4 linked regions of the Homo sapiens genome follow. The protein of the gene in region 4 interacts with the protein of the main gene of each other region in a biochemical or structural test. Each region holds a gene or a part of one and is shown on either strand. Other genes may lie near its edges.

Region 1 (5,101 bases), on a different chromosome or scaffold from region 4:
CGCCATTATCATCTAAATAGCAATTACATATTCAAACACAACAGCTTCTCCTTAACTGTCTGTAACTTAACATTTTACATAGATTCAAGTGGGAATTAAGAATAAAATGAATCTTTTCTTCGTGATTTACAACCCTCCCTTTCACCCTTGGTTTACTAGTTAATGTTGAATAAGCTACTTGTAGACGAAGGAAGACAAAATTATTGATTGCTCAGCTTTAGTTTTGTAGAGAGATATATATTATAAATTGTTTCTGTATTAAACAGTTACCCAAGTGTCAGTGACCCTTATTCAATCACCCATGTATTTATTAGACAGCATTTACCATTTTGGATATAAGGGGATCAGGTCTAACACTCTGTTAAGAAATTAATAGGATCTTTTACAAAAGCAGCAGTGCTTTATAACTTGAAACATTGAAAGGAAACCTTTAAAAATAAGTCAACATATTTGTCCTTTTGGGACAGACCTCAAAAATAGAAGCAAATTCCATTAAAGTAGTAATATACTTTTCCTACTACTTCGTTTTGGCCATCTTAAAATTATATTTTATAATTAGTAAATAAGCTGATTTGACTGAAACGAGCAACTATGTTTATTGGAGACAGACCCAGCTTTTCAACAGATAGAATGTTAGGACTTTTTTTGCCCATTAATATGTGGTTTAAAGGGAAGTTATAACAAGACACCAAATGCATATGTATATATACAAATACAGGCAGTTGTATGTTTTTAAGAAGTTTTTAACCAGCAAGGGGTGTGTGTTTGTGTTTGTGTGTCTGTGTGTGTGTGAGAGAGAGAGAGGGAGAGAGAGAGAAAGGGAGAGGAAGGGAGAAAGTGTGGGAGGAAAAGAGGAGAGGAGGAGAAGACAGAAGAGGAAAACAGTCCTAACTATTAAAAATACCAATTAACTACTTAATAACACATCTTTCAGTGTCTTGCATAATAATTTCTTAGATATTTTGCAAAATTCGGCATGGTTAAGGGATTTTGTAATGGTTAAATAATTTTATTAGTTGTTTGAAATTGACTGTCTTTGTTTTCCTATCTGTGTGCTGAGATTTATCTCAATTATATGTGTGAATAATGTTATGCATGGGGTTACTTTTAATATGGATTTAACTGAGATTCTAGACTATATTCTTTGTAAATATGAACATTAGAAACTTGTTCAATTGTGGGTCGTCATTAATTCAAGTCAGGAAGGCTCACCCTTTGTCCTCACACCATCTCTTAAGAAGATAAGTCCTGTGGATAAGCTGGAGAGGTCAGATGTTGGTGTTGACTTAAAGCATTGCCACCCGAGGAGGGCAGAATGCTGTAAAACAAAGCAGAAGGAACTGTGTGGAGAGAAGGTGAATGACTGGGGGACTTGAAGTTGAAAGAAAAGTCAGGCGCTGAGCCTGCAAGGGCAAAATGAGGCTTGTGGGATAAGAATGGTTTGTCAGAAGTCACCTGTTTGCTCAGAAGTCATCTTTCCCTAACAAGGGTCTGTTTGGTATGTTCCTGTATTACAATTTATAATAACTGTTTTTTTACCTGCTGAGGGTAAGATCTTTAAAGTGACATCTTACCAGCTATTATTCTTAGCTCTTGCTTATGCAAATCTCAATTTGAAAAATAACCTTTTAAAGTTTTTTTTTTTAAATAATGAGAACATATTCAGAATGACAATGTGATGAACACCTGTGTACCCACCAATTGGTTTAAGAAATATAATTTCTTGTTAACCTTGAAGTTCTCTAAGTCTTCTCCTTACTCCCACCTCAGAGGTAAATTCCACTCTTTAAATTCTGCTTTTTTGGGGTCTCTTTTTAAATAGTGTTAACATATTTTTCATATGTGTAGTTTTGTATGTTTTACAACCATATATAAATCGAGTCACTCACAATGTATGTACAATATGTTCTTCAGCAATTTGCCTCTCTCACTCAGTATCATGTATCTGGTCTCATCTATATTGCTCTATGTATCTTTAGTTCTTTCATTTTTATTTGACATTCCATTGATGAATATACCACAATTTATATATCTGTTCTGATGATGAACATTTGGGGTTTTGTTTTGTTTTCCTAAAAACAGTGCTGTTACTGAACATTAGTAGGCAGAAGAAAAAACAAAACACCTTGATCTGTGTCTCACACTTTATGCAAAAATTGCCCAAAATGAAAGGACTAGTCCCTAGAATAAGTACTTGCAAAACTCAGCAGTAAAAAACAAAAAACAAAAAAACATAAAACCAAATTAGAAAATGGGCAAAAGACATGAAGAGACATTTCACTGAAGAGGATATACATATGGCAAATAAGCACATGAATAAGTGTCATTAGCCATAATGCAAATTAAAACCATAATGATAGGTCTCTACAAACCTGTATCAGAATAGCTAAAATAAATAGTAATAACACCAAATGCTGGTAAGGATGAAGAGAATCTGGATCACTTATTGATGATAGGAATGTAAAATGGTACAATTACTCTGGAAAATAGACAGTTTCTGAAAAGCTGAATATGCAGTTACTATACGACTCAGCAATTACACTTTGGGCATTTATCCCAGAGAAATTGAAGACGTATATGTGCATAAAACTGAGTATTTATAGCAATTTTATTCATAATAGACCCAAACTGGATACACACCAAATATCCTTCAACAGGTGAATGGTTAAATCTATGGTATATCTATATCATGGAATAATACTCAGCAAGAAGAAGTAACAAACTGTTGATATATACAACAACCTGGATGAATCTCCAGAGAATTATGCTGAGTGAAAAGAGCCAATCCCTAAAGGTAACGTACTGTATGACTTCATTTATGTAGCATTCTTGAAATGACCAAACTGTACACAAAAAATAGAGAAATCATTGGTCGCCGGTGGGTAAGGATGGGGTGAAAGTTAGAGGCAAGTGTGTGTGGCTATAGAAGGATAACACTGGGGATTCTGGTGGTTATGGAGATGTTCTGTATCTGGTCTGTGTGAATGAAATATCCTGGTTGTGGTATTGAACTATAGTTTTGCAAGATGTTGCCATTGTGGTAAACCAGGTAGAAGCTACATGGGATATTTCCATATAATTTCTCCAATCTGCCTGTGAATCTAGAATTATCTGAAAAAGTTCAATTAAAAGACAACATGATGCTGTTACAAACATCCTTGTACATGTCTCCTGGTGCACATATGTGAGCTTTCCTCTAGATTTTATTTCCGGGAGGAATTACAGGCTATGCACATGTTAACTTTAGTAAATCATGGCAAATTTTTTTCCCAAGTGGTATATGAAAATTCTATCCTTTTCATATTATACTCTATCCTTTTTAAGGATATTGTACTTCAAGGATATTATACTCTATCCTTTTTAACATGTAATACTGTGAGACTTAAATTTTTATCAGTCTGTTGGTTAGAAAATGGTATCTTGTGTTTTTAATTTACATTTTCTTGTTTATAATGGAATTGGACATTTTTATTTATGTTTAATAGTCATATGTGGTTTTTTTGCTCAGTAAAATCACTATTGATCTCTTTTCCCTGCTGTATTGTCTGTCATTTAAAAAGTTGATTCTAAGGGGATCTAGTTACAAATTTTGTTGCATTTTAATGACTTATGTTTTTCTTTTTATCTGTTAATGAAGAGACATTTTGATGTGACAGTTTTAAAATATATAAAACTTTTCCTTAACTTTCATATTTCAGTCTGATTTAAAAAGTCCCTTCTTGGAGATCAGAAAGTCATCTTCCTATAGCATCTTCTTATAGCTCTATGGTTAACTTTGGTTATAGTGTGGTATAGCGATCCGATTTTAATTTTTTTTTGTAGGGATAACCTATTTTCTTAGTACTATTTTGGATTAATTCATCTTCTTTTCTTCACGTATCTTCCAAGCTTACTCTTACATATATAGTATCTTTGGTTCTCCTACTTTATGAGGCTATTTTTCTCTCTCTTAGCCAATGTCATAAAGCTCATTATATTACCATCCTTTAAAACCATCTCAACCTTCCTTTGTTCTCTGCTTTTCTATATAATGAAGCATCAGTTGATCTTATGCCAAATAAATAAAAAATGAATAACAGATGGATAATCACTCAAACCTACCCACTCTGATGTGATTTTTGTTGAAATTTTATTGAACATATAGATTAATTTAGGGGAGAATTGCTATATTTACAATATTTAGTCTTCTTCAGAAATATATTTCTGTCCATTTGCTTAGGTTTCCTTAATACATTTTTGTAAAATTGCCATGCATTTTTCATAAAAATCACATTTCTGCTTTTGTCAGATTTATTCTTAGAGTGCTTTTTTGTTTTATTATTATAGTAAATATTTTTAAAGTTGTATTTTCTGTTTGTTGCCAGCATAGAAACATGTAGCTGATACTTGTAGCAACCATCTTGATAAAATATTTACTTCCCATAATTCATCTTTAGATTCTTTTGAATTTTCTAAGTACGTAATTATAACCTCTGTGAATAGTGAGTTTTGTTTCATTCAAATCCTTGTGGTTTCATTTTATCTTTTGGTCTTACTGCATGGTCTAGGACCTCTAGTATGTTGAAGAGAAGTGTCAAAGAAAACATCTTTTCCCCACTTTTGATTGTAAAAAGAATGCTTATAATGTTTGCAATTGTGAACTACTACATACAATACATTTTGTTTTTTTGGGTTGCTCCTGGTTGGCTAAAGGCTTATTGTAGAAACATAATAGGCATAGAGTGTTGTTAGAATTGGTATAAGATTTGATTTTAATAGAATTCACCTGTAAAAATTATCTTGGCCTCGTGTTTCTTTAGTGGGTAGCTTTTATGTACCGAATGAATTTGTTGATAATTGCAGACTAGCCTATTGTGTCAATTTGGTAAGATATTTTTCTAGGTGATTGCTCATTCAAAAAATATTCTAGGGCCGCGCGCGGTGGCTCACACCTATAATCCCAGCACATTGGGAGGCTAAGGCAGGCAGATCACAAGGTCAGGAGATTGAGACCAGCCTGACCAACATGGTGAAACCCTGTTTCTACTAAAAATACAAAAAAAAAAAATTAGCTGGGCATGGTGGCGTGCACCTGTAGTCCCAGCTACTCAGGAGGCTGAGG
Region 2 (5,101 bases), on a different chromosome or scaffold from region 4:
AACCCTGAGAGGCAGAGGCTGCAGTAAGATGAGATGGCGCCACTGCACTCCAGTCTGGGCAACAGAGCAAGACTCCATCTCTAAATAAATAGATGCATAAAATAAATAAATAAATAAATGGCATGAGAACTTTTAACTAGAGATTTTATTGAAAACAGAACACTAGAATAATATTTTCTCTTTTCAAACGTAATTCTATTAAGGAGATACCACCATCAGCTTATAGAATGCTTCAAAAATTGGGAAAGAACTATAGTTCTCAATATGTTACTTCTAATTTCACTATAACACTCAGTACCAGGAGGAATACGTCATAAAAGTTTTAAAGCCTTCAGAGATATTTAGATTAGGCAATGTTCCAGGCACTACAAATAAAGCAATGAAGACAAAGTTTCTAGCCTCATACAATTTATATTTTGCAGGAGGAGGAGACAAATAATAAAAACATAATTTTATACAATTAGAGCCATGAGCACCATAAAGAAATTAGAAAAGGCAAAGAGACAATACTTAGATTGATTAGAAGGCACTGGGACAAGTACCTTAATGAAATGAAGCTGGCTGTACTAACACCTGGAGGAAAAACAGTCCAGGCAGAAGGAATAGCAAACACCAGAATGACTGGCTTGTTCAAGTAATATCAGGGCCAGTGTGGCTGTAATCAACAGACATTAAAAAAGACCATCAAGAGGTATACAGGGGTAAGTCTATGTAGAATATTAGAGACCATGAAAAGAGCTTCAATTTTATTCTCAATGAAATGGAAAGCACTAAACAGTTTTAAGCAAGGGAACAGTGACTTAATTTAGTATCACTTAAACTTTAAAATTAGCCTGGCTGCTGTGTGGAAAAAGAACTTGACTAAAGAGGAACAAGAACAGATGGAATGAAGGAGATCAACAATAGGCTACACAGATGATAAGGGTTGTTTATGGTGGCTTGGATTAGGGTGTTAATGGGGGAAATGATTAATAAAAGGTGAGATTTTGAAAATTTTTTGAAGGTAGATTATAGATTTGCTGATAAGACTGTAAAGGGGAAGTGGGAAAAGTAAGGAATCAAGGCTAATTTATAAATTTTGATAGAGCCATAAACTGAAATGAGAATAAAAAACTCACACAGAGTTTGTTTTTTAAAAAAGATACAAAGCTTAAAATGAAGATGCAAATACATTAAGGAAGTTATGTCTTTCTATTCCAAGTACTAAAATACATATCTGGCACATTGTAAATTTTCTCCCTTCATTCAAGTCCATGATTAGACCTACATGCATAATGGTACACACCATGTGAAGAATTATTTCAATTGTTACATTAAAAATATCAAAGATGGGCACTACTGTTACCAAATGAAATCTTACAGCTTAACAGCACTATAGCAAGTGGTTCCACATACTCACCATTTTATGGAGATCAGTGTCAGGATAGTTCAGGTAATTCAGAAATTAAGTAAGTTGGAAGTGTGCAATGCTTTAGAAGAGGCAATCACGAAATGATATGTGTCACTGAATCATCATGGGAATAAAAAGCAACACTAATTCAACAGGGACCCTTAAGTATCCACTGTTTTTCTGAGTTTATGATGGAAACAGATATTTTAACAGATGCTACTTAGATGTGAACTTTGTATATGCAGTTGTGTATAAGACATAAACCTATGTTCAAGTACTATCTACAGGACACACACACACATATATATGTACATACTGACACATAATGGTCAAGAAGGCTGTTCAGTATTCAATAATAAACCAGTGTTCAACGGTAGTCATATCTATTAGTTGGGATTACAGTAGCTTTTTTATCCTTTTTACTCATCTGTATTTTGCTATTTTTCTACTCTAAATTTGCATCATTGGCCCAAACAAGCAAATTAGTAAATGCATTTGAAATCAATTTTAAAACCATACTACACATAACCTAGGTATATGAGGCATAAGGACAAAATGTTTACAAGACAACAGCCATGCTCATAAGGGCAAAAATATCCAAGAATTTTGAAGTAGAAATGTCCACACACAGACACATAATATGTTCTAAGATGCAAGACTATATTTTTGAAATGCTGTATCAGAAAAAAAAGGGATGGTACTTTATTCCTTATAATTTAAAAACTATGTTGGCAAGAGATATACATTCTTAGTTAATGCCATTTTCCTTTTACCTGTTTTCTCTCTTTAGGATTGAGAAGTAAGTACCGGGGATCAAAAACTATCTTGTGCAACTCCTTCTCCCACGTTGAAAAAGCAGACACCTTTAAAATAAAAACGTATTGCCTCATAATTAAGTCTCCTCTAAAAATATAAAGGTCATAATTTTGCTTGAAATCTACAGGATATCTGTTTATAAAGGAGACATAAAACCATACTGAAGTTTCCATCACTAATAAATGACAAGCAGTGGGAGGCTAGCAATAGCAAATTTCCACACTAATTGGCTCTGAACATTCCTATATTATATAGAAATAACAGACACTTAATTACTCATTAAAATAACTACTACTGTGTGACATTTTAAAAATCAGTACATCAGAAAAAGCCTTGAAGATTTATATTTTGATTTCTCATGCTTGCTCCAATCTTGTGAACAATGTTGTGATTTAAAATTGAACAATTTTACTTATTCAAATGAATCTGTGAATATAACCAAATAGTTGAAATCCCTTCTCAATTAAATTGCAAATAATAATATCACAAAGTATCAGTTCTCCTTTAACAAAAGCCATTCTCAAGATATTAAAGGAAGAATAATCATATATACCTTACCTATCCCAAGCAGTCCGCCATTCTGTAATGTTAATACTCGTCTTATATTACTCACCACAATTTAATGACCCAATAAATGTTAAGTGTTATTTGTACTTAAAAGGACAGTAAAATGGCATTTAGTTAAATATGATAAGATTAGCCAAGAAAAAGGCTGTTGCAAAAAATGTACAGTAATTTTAAAAATCCCCTTATCCCCCCCCATAACATGAGCACTAACCTTAGATTTGACCTTTTAGCAAGACATATTTATATTACTTATACAAAACAGAAATATCTCCCCCAAAGATTGTTTTCTGACCCCTCTCTCTAGCAGCATGTCCTTGAACTGCTTCATTCGAGCCTCCAGAGGGACAATGGCCCTTTCTCGGGCAGCTTTAATTTCAGCTTCCATGGCAGCTTCTTTCTCTGAGTCAATGTCTTTATTATCGTCTCTCCTATAAAAAATAAAATATAAGACATCAACTGACAAAATATTAATTCTCAGATCTTATTAGAAATCTTAAAATCAAAGGAATTTTCAAGACTCACTACTGAGCAGCATATTTTTGGCAAAAACAAATTATATTGAGGGTTTCAAATGAACTCTAAGGGATAAATAACTTTCATAATAACAAAATTAAAATGGGCTTCTAATGATTTACAATGGCTACATTATTAGGAAAAAAATACACCTTTAATGGGCTGTCTCTCCCTGACACTGGTTAATAACATAAAAAGGGAGCAACCTTACTTAAAAAAAAAAAAGTTTAACACTGCAGTAAACCTCTATGTGTCAGAATCAAACAGCACAAAATATAATTTTTTTAGTTCTTGAAATATAGAAAAAACAGTATTTTCCAAAATGTTTTACATTATAAACACATAAAATATTTTGTAAAATCTAATAAAAATTGGTATTAAGTGGTATAATGTTTTAGTAATCTCAAACATTCATTTTAAAAATAAAACTAAAATATCTGCAATCTTGGCCAAGTGAATATGTAAGATATATACCTTACCTACCTGACTTTTTATTACTCACTTTCTGGGTGATAAGTTGAGATTTAAGTTGAAGGACAGGTCCCAGAGAGCAACATGGGCCCAGGAGTAGTTAGGTGGAATTAGAACTGTTCATCAATGACTAAACTACTTCTTGTTCCTCCAAAAATGCACCTCAGGTGTAAGGGCAACCCTGTTTCTGTGTGGTACTCAAGTGAAATTGTAAACATGGAATCACGGCACCTCTCAAATATATGCACTATGAAAAAGGCCCATTCACGTAAATAATCCAAAAAAGTATGTAATTCAATAATATCTGGGTGTATTTTAGCAGATCTTCCTTCTTAAATATGATCTGCTAAGTATATTTTAAAAATTGGCTCTTATTCCCTATACAAACTTAAGGGAATTAGGAAAACAGAACATGTGGAAATTCAAAAGCATGCTATACAGGAAACTGTAGGTAGCCCCAGAGATTTAAATGGAACTAAGGCTAACCCACAAATGCAAGTGAGAGGTACTTAGCAACTTAGGCAATGAATCAAAAGAAATAGAAGACATAGTCCGTGACCTGCAGGAACTTAGCGAGATAGTCTGTGACCTAAGATATGCACAAAACAAACAGGTAAAAGCAATTTGCCAAACAATATACCCTCTTATAATAATAATTTTAAAACTATTTAAATAGTTAGAGTTAAAAGACATCCAAGAAGTAACTAATAAAAACAAATAACCTTTATAGAACTATACTAAATGAAAATGTCACAATACAAACTATCACTATCTATCTCAATAAAGGAAATAAAAGAAAAACTAAGCCAGGAAAAACAGGCTTTTAGCTTTGTACCTAAATAGAGAAGCTCGGGCAATCCACATAAAGGACTTCTTTGACATTCTCCTGATAAAAGCAGTTAAAAACCTTACAGAGTTGTCTATAAGAACAAACAATTAAAAACAACCTAAAAGTTTAACATCGTAGGAACATCCAAAATTATGGTACATAAACAGAATGAATACAGTCATTTATAATAATTAACAAAACAAATGTCTTATTCTAGGTTTTTTTTTTTTAAAAAAAAAGCACAAAATCAGTTAATCACAACTAATAAAAATTACATTTGGTCAAGAACTAAAAAGTCAATTGCAAAAATGAGAATAGCTATGTTACGCTGATAAATTATGAGTGATTCTTTCATATCTTTTATGTTGTTGCCAATAAAGAAATTTTTTTTAAAAGAACTACCCTTTATAGGGGTTGTCCTACTGATTTCTTTGCCATAATTTGGCTGCATTCAATCTGTCCTTTTCAGATAAGGACTACAATTAACCAGTTCCTGTTAATGTCTTCAAACTTTC
Region 3 (4,609 bases), on a different chromosome or scaffold from region 4:
TAATGGCGCGATCTCAGCCTACCGCAACCTTCGGCTCACCGTAACCTCTGCCTCCCAGGTTTAAGCGATTCTCCTGCCTCAGCCTCCCGAGTAGCTGGGATTACAGGCATGCGCCACCACGCCCAGCTGAGTTTTTTTTTTTTTTTTTTTTTTTTTTGAGATGGAGTTTCGCTCTTGTTGCCCAAGCTGGAGTGCAATGGTGCGATCTCGGCTCACTGCAACCTCTGCCTCTCAGGTTCAAGCGATTCTTCTGTGTCAGCCTCCCGAATAGCTGGGATTACGGGCGCGTGCCACCATGCCCGGCTAATTTTTGTATTTTTAGTAGAGACATTGTTTCATCATATTGGTCAGGCTGGTCTCAAACTCCTGACCTCAGGTGAGCCGCCTGCCTGGGCCTCCCAAATTGCTGGGATTACAGGCGTGAGCCATCGCACCCGGCCCGGCTGGTTTTTGTATTTTTAGTAGAGACCAGGTTTCTCCGTGTTAGTCAGGCTAGTCTCAAACTCCCGACCTCAGGTGATCTGCCCGCCTGGGCCTCCCAAAGTGCTGGGATTACAGGCGTGATCCACTGCGCCTGGCCATATTAGTATATTTTATTTCATACATATACACAGAGAGAAAAAAAAGAAAAAGAGAAAAGAAAGCACTGATATATGCTCTAACATGGATGAATTAGAAAACATTAAGTCAAAGAAGCTAGACATAAAAGGCCACATGTTGTATAAAAAATTCAATTTACATGAATTATCCAGAATAAGCAAATCCATAGAGACAGAAAGTAGATTAATACTGGGAGGAGGGGTGGGAGGGACAGGGGGCTTGGGGAGGAATGTGGGGTGGGGTGGCTGCTAAAGAGTGCAGGTTCACTACACCGGGGTGATGAAAATGCTCTGGATTTACTGGGGATGGTTGTAAAACTTCATGTATATACTAAAAAAAGTGAATTGTACACTTTAAAAGGGCATTATGGAATGTGAATTTTATCTCAAAACAAATTGTAAGTGAATGTCAAAGACTGGCAATAAAGTTTTTCTGACATGGAATGTTAGAAATTTCTTTATTATTACTTATTCTTATTAAGCGCCAGCTTTAATGCTGCAGAAAATTTCAAATCACCCTTGATAACCCACTTTCTTTTCTCCCACCCAAATTCTTGATCAAGAGTTTTTCAAGTAAAGACATGCTCTTCTCTCTTCTGTATAAAACTTTACGAAATAAAGGCAAAAGATTGTGTACATCTTGCTGGAAAATGCTGCCCAGGGCTCTGGAGACGGTGGCTGCCCGGGCTCCCTTCACTGTCCAGGTCCTGAAAGACTCTTGTTCATGAACTGTCTCTTCACAAAGCAAGTCCACCACTAACAAGAGAGAACAACACAGAATGAACAGCGGGGTCAAATTACAATAGAATTTGCATTTATTTAATAATAAAATTTCACATTAGTCTGGAATCTCTTATAAACTTTTTTTTTTTTTTTTTGAGACGGAGTCTCGCTCTGTCGCCCAGGCTGGAGTGCTGGAGTGCAGTGGTGTGATCTTGGCTCACTGCAAGCTCCGCCTCCTGGGTTCATGCCATTCTCCTGCCTTAGCCTCCCCAGTAGCTGGGACTACAGGCGCCTGCCACCACGCCTGGCTAATTTTTTGTATTTTTTAGTAGAGACGGGGTTTCACCATGTTAGCCAGGATGGTCTCAATCTCCTGACCTCATGATCCGCCTGCTTTGGCCTCCCAAAGTGCTGGGATTAGAGGCGTGAGCCACCGCGCCTGGCCATAAACCCTTTTTAGACAAAGTCTCACTCTGTCATTCAGGCTGGAGTGTAATGGCATGATCTTGGCTCACTGCAACCTCCACTTCCTGGGTTCAAGCGACTCTCTTGTCTCAGCCTCCTGAGTAGCTGAGATGACAGGTGCACACCATCATGCCTGGCTAATTTTTTGTATTTTCAGTAGAGATGGGGGTTTCACCATGTTGGCCAGGCTGGTCTCGAACTCCTGACCGCAAGTGATCCACTCGCCTCGGCCTCCCAAAGTGGTGGGATTACAGGCGTGAGCCACTGCGCCCGGCCTGCAATTCATTATTTAGTGTGATTCAGTGAACTCATATTACATACTAGACATATACTGGAAGTTAAGCAACATTGCAATGCAGAAATTAAAAATATTCTTGCAATGGAAGACCTTAGTGTGTTCAATGGTGGCTATGGGATAAAAGGTGATTTACCAATTAAGCAGGCAAGAAGAGGGTCTTACCTTGCTGGGTTTATCATTCTGAGGGTCGAAAACTTTCTCACAAAGTCTCAGTCCAGTCTCTTGCCTTAGCTGTTGTAAATAGGCTCTCATCACTTCTAAAACAGAACAATTTAAAAAAAACTGTATTTGCAAATACATCCCAAATGTACTGGTTGCAGCTCTGGATGCTCACTGTGGTAATACATTTTTATACATTTGAACAGGATACAAAATAGAAATGACAGTCCAGATAGTTTTATAACTATATTTGTTTTTGTTCAAAAGATTTTCTGCATGTCATCCTTGTTGCCAAGAATCGTTTGTGAGAGTGACTAATAAGATAATGTACTTCCTATGATTTCACTCTCAATCTGTACATGAATCAAGGCAAGAAAAAGAGGGGTGGTAGGAAGTCAAATGGAGAAAATCTTCTTGTGTCACAGAGTGAGGATAGAGACCTGTTCTTACCATCTTCCTGTTTGTTTGCAGGTTTGGCATAAATTGCGTTAAGTGGAAAACCAGGCTCTCCAGGAATGGGAAAATTAGTGATTCCCAGCGTATACATTTCTTTCTCACCTTGGCTTTTGGAATTGCACTGGAAAAAAAAATATATATATATATATACACACACACACACACACACACACACACACACACACACACACATATTTTACAGGGAAAAGAAGAATTCTATCCTTGGACCCCAGGTTAAGAACCCTTGAGTCAAGGGCTTAAAAGGAATTCCTCTGTCAAGATTTCTGTCTTGAGAAAATATATTCAAAGCCTTAAAACACCACTACTTTTATCTTTGTGTCAGTCAATTATACTACAAGTTCAGGTAACTAAATTCAAATTTTTCTCTTAAGTCCATGCTGTAAGTCAGAGGAAATATTTTCTACTTGTCTTTAAAGTCTCAACAAATCCCAGATGACTGGGAGGGTAAATGCCTCTCAGCAATTTGTTTTCCTGATATACAATCATCCAAGTTTAATTACCTTTTGCAGTTTCTTCAGACATTCAGAAATGTAGAGAGTTATATATATCAAGGTCCTATCAGCTTCATTCTACAGGGAGAAAAAGAAGACTTAAAAACAGTTATCAAAACATAACAATGATGTGCAATGTATGCATTCCATCTTTGTCTTCTGATTATCTGCTGAATGCAGTGGTAGGACAGCCACTATCACATCAAAACTCCCATTCTCCAAATGCACAGTCTCCTCAGTCTCCTTTTCCGTCTGCCCCTGGGAGGAAGGCACAAGCCCCACTCTGAGATGTGCAGCTGCTTTTTTTTTTTGAGACGGAGTCTTGCTCTGTTGCCCAGGCTGGAGTGCAGTGGCACAATCTCAGCTCACTGCAACCTCCACCTCCCAGGTTCAAGCAATTCTCCTGCCTCAGCCTCCCGAGTAGCTGGGATTACAGGTGCCCGCCACCACGCCTGGCTAATTTTTCTATTTTTAGTAGAGACGGGGTTTCACCATGTTGGCCAGGTTGGTCTCGAACTCCTGACCTCAAGTGATCTGTCCACCTCAGCCTCCCAAAGTGCTGGGATTACAGGCATGAGCCACCACGCTCGGCTGAGTGGCTGCTCTCTCTTGTTTTTCTCGGCTCCCCTTGCCCCAGGGTTCCCAAGGATCTGTGTCAACAGCCCCTCACTGTATAGGAAGAAGTAACAAAGCTGCCTGGAAAGCCTGAACTGCTCCATATGGTTGGCTAATTTTTAAAAACCCTTCCCTTCAGGGTCTCTGCCGAGAACAGAAATAGTCATTACTCTAAAGGAGGAAGCAACTATTTCACATTTGACTTGCTCCCAAAGAACTCCATAATCTCAATGTCTTGACCTAACCAAAAAGAAAATGTGGAGAAGACAAATGAATGTTGATCAAATGTGGTATGGACTTTGGGTCAAATTTTACACAAATTTAGGCCAGGTGCAGTGGCTTATGCCTGTAATCCCAGCACTTTGGGAGGTTGAGGTGGGTGGATTGCTTGAGCCCAGGAGTTTGAGACCAGCCTGGGCAACATGGCGAAACACCGTCTCTACTAAAAATACAAAAATTAGCCAGTCATGGTGGCGTGCGCCTGTAATCCCAGCTGCTAGGGAGGCTAAGGCCACAGAATCGCTTGAAGCCAGGAGGCAGAGGTTGTAATGAGTCAAGACTGTACCACTGCACTGCAGCCTGGGCAACAGAGCAAGACTCTGTCTCGAATTAAAAAAAAAAAAAAAAAGGCCGGGTGCGGTGGCCCACACCTGTAATCCCAACACTTTGGAAGTCCAAGGTGGGTGTATCACGAGCTCAGGAGATCGAGACCATCCTGGCCAACGTGGTGAAACCCTGTCCCTACCAAAAAATACAAAAATTAGCTTGGCGTGGTGGCGCGT
Region 4 (4,166 bases):
TTTGTCTTTCTGTTTCTGAGTTGTTTCACTCAAATTAATGGCCTTCAGTTTCATTCATGTTGCTGCAAAAGACATGATTTCATTGTTTTTTATGGCCGAATAGTATTCCATTGTGTATACCACATTTTTTTTTTGAGACGGAGTCTCGCTCTGTTGCCCAGGCTGGAGTGTAGTAGCGTGATCTCAGCTCACCACAACTCTGCCTCTCGGGTTCAAGCAATTCCCCTGTCTCAGCCTCCTGAGTAGCTGGGACTACAGGCATGTGCCACCACGCCCGGCTAATTTTTTGTATTTTTAGTAGAGATGAGGTTTCACCATGTTAGCCAGGATGGTCTCTATTTCTTGACTTCATGATCCGCCCATCTCGGCCTCCCGAAGTGCTGGGATTACAGGCGTGAGCCACCGCGCCCGGCCAACCAGAACACTGGATTTCTAAGATTTCTGTGGGGGACTGGGAGTAGGGATAAATGATGCTGATGGATCCTTCCTAGACTCAGTGCCCATCTGGGGACCTGGTCAGGGTGGGGTGGGGAGTGGTGTTGCGGTGTAAAGAATAATGAATTAAAGGAAACCTGAGACTCCCTCCTTCTCTAGCTTGGGGGAGTTCCCCTTTCCACCTAGAAATTCTTCCGTTGCTCTTGCAGACTGAAGAAGCCTGCCCTCTCTGGAGTCTCCCTCACCTTTATCTTCCTCCCCACTACCTTTCTCTTTTTCTCCTCCTCTAAAGGTAGGATGTCTGAGATCTCGAATTCACCAGATTTCAGAAATCGGAAGGGGCAGGGAGCTCAATTCTAGGCTTTGCTGTGCAACAGTTTCTAATTATGCCCTTGGAAATAGCTGTAAACGCCAAGGACGCTTTTGAGTTACTCCTTTGTTTCTGGGAGAGCAAGTCCTGAGGAGGCAGAGAGGTGACTCAGTGGGATCCCCGTTGGAAATCAGTTACCTCCATTGTATAGATGCGGAAACCAAAGCTCAGAGGTGAGGCATCTTTCCCGGGTTCTAGAGCAGATCTGTCTGATAATTAAGTCTTTGCCTTTTCCATTGCAATTGGCCAGTGCTTGATTTGAACTGGGAACTGGGCAGAGCCAAATTTTAAAAATGAGAGGGGGATCCTGCCCATCAAGATCCTGGTGTGTGAGTTGTTATGGGCATGGAGAATGGGGAGGTCTGCTCATTGAGTATGCTGCTCTTAATCTAGTATTGTGTTGATTGAATGATTTTTTTTTTTTGAGACGGAGTCTCGCTCTGTTGCCCAGGCTAGAGTGCAGTGGCACGATCTCAGCTCACTGCAACCTCTGCCTCCCGGGTTCAAGCAGTTCTCCTGCCTCAGCCCCCATTAGGAGCTGGGATTACAGGTGTGCACCACCATACCCAGCTAATTTTTGTATTTTTTAGTAGAGACAGGGTTTCACCATGTTGCCCAGGCTGGTCTCGAACTCCTGACCTCAGGTGATCCGCCCACCTCGGCCTCCCAAAGTGCTGGAATTACAGGCATGAGCCACTGCACCCAGCCGATTGAATTATTTTTTTAAAAAATAATTAAATGCATGACATCTGGCCTCATGCCAAGCCTTTTCTCACCTCAGGGCCTTTGCACTGGCTGCTCCCTCAGCCTGGAACCCCTTTTCCCCAAATATTAACTGGGCCGACATTTCTCTCTCTTTAGGTCCAGCACCACCATCACCTACTCCAAGTGACCATCCCTGACTGCTCCATCTGAATGTTGTTTCATCTGTATCTCTGCCTTACCACTCCACAGCATTTATCATGATCTGCAGCTATCTTTTATTTCTATTTGATTTCTTGTTTCTTGTCTGTCTCTTCCCCTAGAATGTGGATTTCACCCCCTAAGGGCAGGAATTCTTGTCTGTTTTTTTTCCCACTTCTTGATTCCTAGCCCCTAAAATAGTACCTGACAATAAATGTTGAAAGACAGAGGGGCAGAAGGAAACAAAGAAATACAGGCTAAATGACTGAGGGAATAAATGAATGAATGAATATATACATGTAAGGCTAAATAAATAAAATGGGATAAATGAATAAAAGGGACTTTGGGGGAAAGGGACCCCATTCCCACATTTGGAATGTAAACAGACTGAGATTTATAGAGAGACAGAAAGACAATTCTTTTATTTTTCTTTAAAAATCCTTGAGTGAAGAGAACTGAGAATTTTTGTATAAAAAGGGCCTTGGGATTGTTGGGTGAGTGTGAGGACCAGGCAGGGATAACAGCATTGGAGGGGTTGGTGGGGAAGAAATGGGGGGTTGGGGGCCTGGAAGAGGAGAGTGGAGGGTGGGCACAGAGCAGGTGGAGGGGGAGCCATGTCCTGCGGGGAGGAGCACAGGGCAGCAAGTAACTCAGCCACTCAGTCATCCCATTCATCATCTTCATCTTCATCGCCAGCCTGGTCCTCCCCTTCGTCTGGAGGGAAAGAGAAAGATAAGATGCCCTGGGAGGTTGGTGGGGGGCTTCATAGGGCCTGGGAGGTGAGGACTGGACCCTGGGGTTCTGAGGTCTCATGCTAGAGGAGGGCAAGTTAGAGTTTCCATTTGGGACAAGAAAGGGATTATAGTTGGGGTCTGAGTTCTAGTTGGAGTTGAAGTTTATGCTGTCAAAAATGTGGTTAGTCGAGATATTGTCAAACAAAGGGTTAATGTTAACCTATTTATCACATAATAGGGTGAATTTAAATAATATTAGCAAAGGTGTGATAATATATTATTGCTTCCTGTCTGGTTAACGCTAATATTTTTGACACATAATGGGGTTAATGACAATAACATCAAAATTAGCTGGGCGTAGTGGCGTGCCTGTAGTCCCAGCTACTCGGAAGGCTGAGGCAGGAGAATCGCTTGAACCCAGGAGGCAGAGTCTGCAGTTAGCCAAGATCGCGCCACTGCACTCCAGCCTGGGTGACAGAGCAAGACTCCGTCTCAAAAGAAAAAAAAAATCATTGTCGAAAGATGAAGTTCCTATAGTAGGTTGATACTAATATTTGCATCATATAATGGATTAGTGACAGTATTGCTGACAGATTAAGAGAGTAATAGTAACATTATTATAAAAAGATTAGGTTAACAGCCAGGCCTGGTGGCTCATGCCTGTAATCCCAGCACTCTGGGAGGCTGAGGCGGGGCAGATCGCTTGAGCCCTGGAGTTGCAGAGCAGCCTGGGCAACATGAGAGTAGTGAGAGCTTGGTAGTGAGAGCTCATCACTACCAAAAAAACACCAAAAATTAGCCAGGTATGGTGGCACACGCCTGTAGTCCCAGCTACTTTGGGAGCTGAGGCGGGAGGATCGCTTGAGCCTGGGAGGTTGAGGCTGCACTGAGCCATGATTGCACCACTGTACTCCAGCCTGGGACACAGAGCGAGACCCTGTTTCAAAAAAATTTTTTAAAAGATTAGATTAGGTTACGTCATAATGAATTAATGTAAATCTGTTAATACATGGAATTAAAATTAATATTGTCAACAATAGTGTTCTTCATAATATTGTCATCACATAATGGGTTAATTTTTTTTTTTTTTGAGATAGGATCTCTGTCACCCAGGCTGGAGTGCAGTGGCACAATCATGGATCACTGCTGCCTTGACCTCCCAGGGTCAAGCAATCCTCCCACCTCAGCCTCCCAAGTAGCTGGGACCACAGGCACACACCACTATGCTTGACTACTTTTTTTGAATTTAGTTTTTATGGAAACGAGGTCTCACTATATTGCCCAGGCTGGTCTCGAACTCCTGGGCTCAAGTGATCCTCCTGCCTTAGCCTCCCAAAGTTCCTGGATTACAGGCATGAGCCACCGCGCCGGCCAGCTGATGTTAATAGTACTGAACATGTGGGAATGACATTAATATTGTGGACACACCCTGGCATTAATGTTAATATTACTGTCAAAGTTGGAGTTAATTATATTATTGTCACATAATGACTTAATGTTAACATTGTCAAAAACGAGGCTGACACAAGATTCATGTTAATGCTGTCAAACAGATGGGGCTGATGTCACTATTGGTGGTGACTGCTGGGATTGTTTTGAGGCCAGTGCTAGCCCTGGGAGCCAGGTTTGAGGCCCCGGCAGGATCAGCTCACCGGAGGAGTGGATGGCTCTGCTTCTCTTCTGCATCACGTGCATCAGGGCCCCCACCAGTCCCTCTGAGCTCT

The links. The genes of interacting proteins can lie anywhere in the genome.
Region 1: the proteins of WAS (region 4) and RPA3 form a complex in vitro, tested with the Homo sapiens proteins (one study listed by BioGRID).
Region 2: the proteins of WAS (region 4) and TCERG1 form a complex in vitro, tested with the Homo sapiens proteins (one study listed by BioGRID).
Region 3: the proteins of WAS (region 4) and ARPC3 form a complex in vitro, tested with the Homo sapiens proteins (one study listed by BioGRID).

Annotation. Positions count from the first base shown.
Region 1 is NC_000007.14:7,708,148-7,713,248, forward strand, and holds part of RPA3 (replication protein A 14 kDa subunit), read right to left. Parts: intron 1-5,101. UniProt on the Homo sapiens protein: As part of the heterotrimeric replication protein A complex (RPA/RP-A), binds and stabilizes single-stranded DNA intermediates that form during DNA replication or upon DNA stress.
Region 2 is NC_000005.10:146,480,692-146,485,792, reverse strand, and holds part of TCERG1 (transcription elongation regulator 1), read right to left. Parts: exon of another isoform or gene 4,644-5,101; coding exon 4,593-4,643; exon of another isoform or gene 4,347-4,592; coding exon of another isoform or gene 4,223-4,346; exon of another isoform or gene 3,202-4,222; coding exon 3,066-3,201; exon of another isoform or gene 2,254-3,065; coding exon 2,164-2,253; intron 656-2,163; exon of another isoform or gene 543-655; intron 81-542; exon of another isoform or gene 1-80. UniProt on the Homo sapiens protein: Transcription factor that binds RNA polymerase II and inhibits the elongation of transcripts from target promoters. Regulates transcription elongation in a TATA box-dependent manner.
Region 3 is NC_000012.12:110,433,863-110,438,471, forward strand, and holds the end of ARPC3 (actin-related protein 2/3 complex subunit 3), read right to left. Parts: intron 3,291-4,609; coding exon 3,222-3,290; intron 2,822-3,221; coding exon 2,695-2,821; intron 2,343-2,694; coding exon 2,248-2,342; intron 1,356-2,247; coding exon 1,293-1,355; 3' UTR 961-1,292; downstream 1-960. UniProt on the Homo sapiens protein: Component of the Arp2/3 complex, a multiprotein complex that mediates actin polymerization upon stimulation by nucleation-promoting factor (NPF).
Region 4 is NC_000023.11:48,689,363-48,693,528, reverse strand, and holds the end of WAS (actin nucleation-promoting factor WAS), read right to left. Parts: coding exon 4,095-4,166; intron 3,380-4,094; coding exon of another isoform or gene 3,060-3,379; exon of another isoform or gene 2,423-3,059; coding exon 2,367-2,422; 3' UTR 2,102-2,366; downstream 1-2,101. UniProt on the Homo sapiens protein: Effector protein for Rho-type GTPases that regulates actin filament reorganization via its interaction with the Arp2/3 complex. Important for efficient actin polymerization. Possible regulator of lymphocyte and platelet function.